2 linked regions of the Homo sapiens genome follow. The protein of the gene in region 2 purifies or fractionates together with the protein of the main gene of each other region. This does not show direct contact. Each region holds a gene or a part of one and is shown on either strand. Other genes may lie near its edges.

Evidence for each region.
Region 1: the proteins of RND3 (region 2) and LRCH2 purify together in Homo sapiens (affinity purification with mass spectrometry, with the first as the bait; one large-scale study listed by BioGRID). This does not show direct contact.

What each region holds. Positions count from the first base shown.
Region 1 is NC_000023.11:115,227,597-115,231,336, forward strand, and holds part of LRCH2 (leucine-rich repeat and calponin homology domain-containing protein 2), read right to left. Parts: intron 1-3,740. UniProt on the Homo sapiens protein: May play a role in the organization of the cytoskeleton.
Region 2 is NC_000002.12:150,477,405-150,481,376, forward strand, and holds part of RND3 (rho-related GTP-binding protein RhoE precursor), read right to left. Parts: intron 1-3,972. UniProt on the Homo sapiens protein: Binds GTP but lacks intrinsic GTPase activity and is resistant to Rho-specific GTPase-activating proteins.

The DNA.
Region 1 (3,740 bases), on a different chromosome or scaffold from region 2:
ATAGACATCCCCAACCAAGTAGCTCAAAATACTAAGGATTTACGTATTGCAATTATTTTTTTAAGAAGTGAAAAACTCTAGACTATACATACTAGATTCTCTTAGGAACATAATCATTAACAAAAAGCCATTTCTGAGTGAAATCCAAATTCACAAATGTTCTAGAATCAGTTCATCTCCATATGGTTCAAAGAAAAGTTTATGTCACAGTTATCTTATACCTGTCTCTTGTCACCTTGAATCTCTAATATTCTACTGAGACAAGTAATTAATCTAAAAATAAAGTGACAACATTCTCTGTCACAAATTAGAAAAGACTACACAGAATCAAGTGTTCCTGAAAAGGAAAGAACTTACTTTCCTATTTGGAAAAAACTTTTCCTCAAAGAATTTGATATAAAAAATACATTAGAAAATATCTACTGTTGAATTATCCATTACAGTCCATTGACAGGTATTCTGTTAATGGAATGCTATCTATTTACATGAAACAAGAGAAATGTAAAGATTAAACATTACAGTTTGACCTTTAGCAGATTGAGTGCACTAGCTGAAAGTGAGAGTAAACATAAACTTACATTGTTATTAAATTGGCTTATACAGTTTTCTTTAATTACATTAAATGGTTCCCTGGCGTGTAAGGTATTTTTTTTTCTGTAAATGAGAAGCAGACAACCCTTTCTGAAACTTTCCAGATAACTGATTATAAGAGTATTACAATGTTTTAAGAAGCACCCAAATACACTCAAAGTGTAGAGAAAAAAAGAAAACTAAAATATTTCCCTTTCTAGGTCATGATGATCACTAGCCTCTGCAGAATGGGGAGGTGTGTATCATGCAGTTAAGGCATCTCACAGAGTGGGCTGCTAGGCTGGGCTGGGAGAACAAGATGCCTCTTTTGCAAAGTTTCACTGTGTGCCTAGGAACTTAAACAAATGGCACCTCCCAGCAAATCAATTTTGTAAGTCTTCAATTATCTTTATTTGTAGTAAGTGTCCCTAGCATTACTTCTTATGTTCTCAGTGAGGTTCTGGATCTTGTCTACCTTCATGCCAAATAAATGCTTCAGAATTTATATCACAAATAATCTAAATTGAAATATTAAATTTAAACCTTAAGCAAAAGTATTCCACTAACCCCAATTTTAAAACATCCCAATCAACCACTTCTGTTCTTATACCTGTCATGCAACAAATACCTAACCTAACTTTTCAGGAAGCTTTCTCAAACTAAATTAATCCCCTCTAAAATTAAGCCTTATGCCACAGTTCCAGATCTCTTATGTGTACAGTATATTAAAATATATTATTTTGAATACTATTATATATTATAGTGAAATTCTTTTCTAATGGTTATATTACTGTATACATTTGACTATTGTATAAATCCTTTAAGTACAAAAACCATGTCTCTTTTTATTAGCCATAATCATGTTTCCAAAGTAGGAGTTCAATAAATGCTTGCTTAATGAATCTATTCTAAAACCATAAGAGAGGCATGATAGCTATGCAAATACACACAAAACAAAACACACCATACCACAAACAAAAAGTATATAACCTACGAAGTTAAATAAGCATTGAATTTTCAGAATAAATAACCTATTTATTGGCATGGTGTTTAATAACTGCTTTTTTATAAAGAGAGAATGTGTTACACTGGAAATAACATTAGGATAGCACTGGAGTTGAAAAACCTAGGCTCTGACCCACACACTCTGCCAGACTCACCATTTAACTTTGGACAAATCACTTAACCTGTCTCTCAACCACAACGAGCAATTACTATGTACTCTGCCAAGCTCACAGGGTTATTATTAGGATACAATAGGATAATATATATGAAAGTACTTAAAAATGTATAAAGAGCTGTATAAATGGTATTATCTTAATGATGAATGTACCCTTCAATTAAAGATAACATTTTATTTTAAATGAAAGAAATTAAGGGATAAGTATGCTGTAGAACTTATCACTGAATAAATCAGTACAAGGTTCAGTAATTCAGATTCAATCTATAGCAATTAAAATATGAGTCAACTGTCAAAAATGTGCTTCACATTCGATTTTTCAGGAAGACATTTATTAAATGAAGCAAGGCAGATATTTGAATAAGGCCACAAAATCACAATCATGAGCTCATTCCACTAAATGCACTGAGAGGACCTTCACCTCACAAAATCAAATGCTGTGTTTATCTGGCTCCATTTTACAACCTGATACAATGCACCATGCCCTACAGTTGAAAAGGTGAACCAGCACATGTAGGAAATACTAGAGTTGACTCCTGGTTTACAGGAAAACACGTGATTATCCAGGACACGGCAGAATCTGATGTAAGAATTCCTAAATCTGTTTCACAGACCTACTGCTCATGTACATAAACAGGTATAAAGAAGCAGAGGGAGCAGCAGCAAGTACGCTGAAACATATCCACTTATTTGTAGCACTGGTGACAGAGTCAACTATGCAAGGTTTCAGGATTTGTTTGGGTAACAATTAAATTCACTTTCAAGTCAACAAATTATCATAGTATCCAGATGGACCAAAAAGTTCTATGCAATTTCCCTTCATCTTGTCAAATCTATCTACAGACCATCTCGGAGAAGACATTACAGCAAGAGTCAGCTACTTTACTGAAATGGGTTACCAACTTTCTGATCACTGTTTTATGTCCTTATGTGGGTGAAAATTTTAATCAAGGAGTATCTGGAAGGGAGATCTACTCAAAAAGGTCATGAATCTCCAATCACCAATTGGAGATTCAAGTAAATTAGCAAACTCCCCCTTTTAAATGTTAATCTCCTAGAGAGGCTGCCATAATCATTTACCTGAGCTCTATCCCAATAAAGTAAGAGGAGTGAGGTTGAAGAGAGAAAGAGAAAGGAGAAAAGTGTGATGGGGACAAAGGGAGGAGGCAAGTGAAGAACAGACACTAGAAATGCAGAGAGAGGTAAAAAGACACCAAAGATAAACTCTGCAAACAGCTGCCTAAAATACATTTTCCCTCATAGGAAGCCTGTTAGCAGAGAAAAGATTTTGCTGCTACATGTTTAGGGGGCATCATTTTCTTCACGTAAATTTATCAAACAATTTGAAACAATTTTTGAGTATTTAGTTCCTAGTTTTGGTTTTGACTTTCTTGACAAGTGGCTTTAAGGTTAATAACTAAACTTTTATCAATGTTCTTATTCACTCAAAGAACAAATATTTCTTGAGTGCTTAAAAAATAAACAATTTTAGGGTTTCTCAGCCCTGAGTGCATATTAGAATTACCTGGGAAGATTTTTTTTCCTTAAGTTCCTTGGCCCCTGAGATTCTGATTTAATTGGTCTAGGGTGGGATCCAGGCAGGGTTGAAAAAACAAACAAAAAATCTCCCTTGCAATTGTAATGTGCAGCCAGGGTGGAGAACCAGGGGTCTATTTCATCTTAATGTAAAAAAACCTTCCCCCATTTATTTTGAAATGTATTAATTTCTCCTTATTCAATATTGTTTCACCCAGATTCTCACCACCTCTCACCTAGATTAACATTAACCGCTTCTTAGCTATTTTCCCTTCCTCTTGTCTCTTCCTAATGCAATAAGGAATGCTTGTCTAACTAATCGGTTTGGTTCTGAAACAGTATTCCACTGAGTCATTTTAAGTATAACAAGATCACCAAACAGATCATTTTCATCAAATAGAGAATATACTGTATGTGTGTTCCTGTATGTATGTGTGTGTATGTATGTACATAT
Region 2 (3,972 bases):
GAGGATAAAAGAGTTTAATTAAAATTGAGACTGCCAGGAAAATCCTGAGGAATGGTTTCAACATTCAGGCCACCACATGACTGCTGGGAATACCCCTCCCCCCTTTGTGGACTATGTTTCCCGTCCCCCACCCATTTTATGGCCACAAAGGAGATCTGGCTTTGTGCTCAGCCCTGAGTCACCTGCTGGAGACTGCTACCTACTAAAATCAAGTGGGCTGGCTTCTGTGCTTAGTGCATATATCTAAATATCTGCAAAATTTAGACTCTGGCCTGATTTTAAAATGAAACGGAGTTCTCCAGTTAAACCAGATTTTCAGGGAAGTTTGTATCTGCTTTTGTTTTTATCCGGTTAACAGTATAAGTGAAAATACATATGTAGTGCAAAGGTTTATGAGAAATAAACCACCGTGCTTGTGGAGGTAGACAGGTAATTTTTAAGAGGTTTAACATGATCTAATTAGGGATGACACTTTGATCCCATTCTATTACTTTTGCTAATGAACAGTGCTGCTTTTAGATCAACACGAGTGTCCAAAGGTAATAGTAAAACTGATTCCCATATTTCTTAGTTATAAGCATAATTTGACTGCCAATGACAAGAGTAATTTATTTAAAATAACAAGACCATTTATTCACTATATTTTTGATAGGTTAAGTTTATCTTGTCTTAGATAGAAATATCTATTGTCTCTATTTATTCACAGTGAAAAATATTGATATAGAATTATCAAGAACTGTCCCACCAGGAAAGATGTAAGTCATCAGCTCAGCAGGACTTTCAGGATAAAAAAAAAAACAAAGCAAAACAAAAAACAAAAACACTCACACACAAAAACACCTCCTGTGTAACTTTACAGTGTTTACTCTGTGTTTAAGCACTTGGAATCCTTCCTTTTCTTCCCCATAAAGCCCAAGAGACTGCACAAAGGAAGTAAGGCAAGCAAAGCTGGAGAGGGCACGGTGGAATCACAGGTATGCGTGAGACAACGCATGCCAAAAAAAAAGGAAGAGGAATTCCAGAAATGACTCTGTGAAGTGAGAAGCAATAAAGAGGGGCAGAAATGACACCAAAGGAAGGAGCTGAAAGTAAGTGGGTAAAGCAGGAACAATACCTGCCCCTAACTCCTATATCCCTCCAGAAAAGTCTTACAACACCCTGTGAAGCCAAACGGCAAAAAAAAAAAAAAAAAATTAACTTCTATAGGTGTTTTTAAAAGATGCACATGAAAAACTCCCAAGGTGCTAACTGTAGAACTAAACACAGCACAAGCAGGAGGGCTCAACAATTTTTACTAAGTATGAAAGTATTCAACTTTAACTGCAGTACATGGTAGGTATTGATATACACAGAGTATGTGCTCTAGTACCTAAGAATGCACTAAAGTCCAATAACATTTAGGGACTGCGTTTGGCTTGTCAAATGAAACTCTTTTTCAGCATGTGGAATAGGCTTCATGCATATGGAAATTCTCAGATGCAGCATTTCTCTGGTACTATATGAAACTTTTAAGCTCGCAACCCTATTCCAAGGTCCTTTTTAAGTAACCTGCCACACCTCTGAAGGAAAAACTTAGGGAAACTCTATATTGTAAAGAAACAACTACACTATATATGCAAAATGTGTACCCCGCTCACCCAGAAAATATAGTTGAAAGGCTTTGCTGGGGGTAGATTGGAACAAGTGTACACTTGGGGTTCTCTGAGTTGCTCAAGTTTGGCAAACATCAGCAAAGTTCTAGAGAGCTTTTGAAATTTCAGATCTACCCATCTTTGTATTCAAGATCATTAATTCTGGGTGAGAGCAAAATTTCCAGCCAAAGAATAGTCACAACGTGCCTCACCCAGAAACTAATTCTTCAGACACATACCTGCCTGCTGAAGTCACCCTTTCGCAAATATAGAACACACCATATATGTACATAATTAAATGTATATGTAAGAAGATTCATGCCCAAAAGGAAGGCTTTATGGAACCTTTTGCAAAGTACCAGTTTAAACACTGTGAGGCTTTAGAGGAGTTGGAGAACTGAAAACTCTTCTTGTTGAATATTTCATAAATATAATTTATTTAACTTGAACCTTCATCTGAAAAGCTTCCCTTTCCCCCTTAAGAAATTTTTACCAAGAAGAGTAAGCTAAAGCTATTGCATATTTTTGGCAGAGAAAAGTAGATTAACTTTTGGTATATTTAGTGACCACCATGAGCACATCTGAACGCAGCAGCAGCTAACATGTGAGAGGGCATGATCTGCCCAATTATTACAAGATTGCATTTCCTCATGCCATCTCTAATCAGAGGAAAAGGTTTAAATTAGCAGCAATCTCAAGAATGTGAATCAAGTCTGGGCAGAACTTTTGTATCTGACTCAGTGTAAGACTGTTTAGTTCTTGTTTCAAGTAGTCTGCACAACAAATACCATGCCTGCAAATATGCAACAAACACTCCCAGGAAGAATATGTTTGTTTCTTCCATGGATTCAGGTAATAGGAACTATGAACAGATCTTATAAAATTTTGTGGGCATTTATGTGTTGCTATTAAAATGGAATAAAGATTTTCTATTTCTGGGGGCAATGTAGATACAAAATTAGAAAGTCAGACAGGTAGATATGTTTGGCCTTTAAATAAAGTTTAGCTTTAAACTCCTAATCTTATTGAGGTACTTAAAAATATGTAAGAATCAAAATATTTTACTGACAGTGGAACCATGGTTAAGTCAAGAGCTTTAGGGAAAAGAGTATATGTATATGAATATGCCTAAAAGTAAATAGGGATAATGGATTCAAGTTTTTGTTTCATATGATATCTAAGAATCAGATTTCTTGGAGTAGAATCCCATGAGTGAATTCATCTTTCCACAAACTATGTCATCAGGCTCATTTTTCAAAACCAATGTGCACAACACCTGGTCAAACTTCTGCGTCAACTACATTCCGTGTCAATAAAATGTTTGCTTTGCCAAGGGAGACTCTGAGAAAGTGACCAATATGTAGCAACTGAGAAGTCATTTAAAGGACATCAGAAAATGACTGAGCCACGACTAATTCATTTGGCAGAGCCCGCCAGGCACCATGAGCTAACTGGAGAAAGTATTGGTTCTTGGTGTCATATTTACATGCAAAAGAACTGGATTAATGAGGAAACATCTGGTTATTTCGGGTGTTATCAGAATGACCAATTTGGATGCTTCATTGAAATGTGCAACTTAGCAAGAAACCAGATTGGAAAAAAAACAGCACTAAATGCGGCTAAAAAAAAAAAATCTACAGACAGATGTAGACTTAGAAAGAGCATTCATACTGCCCCCTCCCCTTTTTAGGAGGTTCCTTGGTTTAAATGGAAATTACTGCATGGTGGACAAATCTCCAAATGCAGTTTTATGTACTGCTTATTGGAAACCACCATACAAACTATCTGTTTTACCTTAACCCAGGTCTTTTACATAAGAGTTTCAGTGTGAAAACTCGTTAAGAATTAAACCTAGTTTTGAAACCCTAAGCTCCAATGGATCATTACTACCTGATGAAATGCTTGGTTTCCTGCAATTTCACAGTTGATATTCAAATCCCAAGCATCCATGCTTCTCTGGCTCCTTCATAAATTCTTAACCTCTTCCTTTCTCCAAGAACGTTAATTTAAGTTATAATTCTCAGCTTCCAGAATCTTGTTTTATCTGAGAGCCACTAAATGTAAGCGAGTTTCCACGTGGAAGAAACGTTAAAAACTTCTTAGAACTTAGTCAACTTCTAGAAAGGAAGGGAATTGTGGTGGGCCTCAATGACCATTAAGTCATGAGTTAGGGAGCCTGGGCTGCCCTTGTGGCCTTCAAGAACTCTTTGGATCTTGTTGCTCCTTGAAAAATCCAGGTTTAGAACCTCCGGGCTCACCATCCTATAAACAGGTATTACAGCACTAGACAGGAGGAAGTCTTTCTATGTCCTCTGTTTGTCCTGTGGGTATTCAAAGAAGG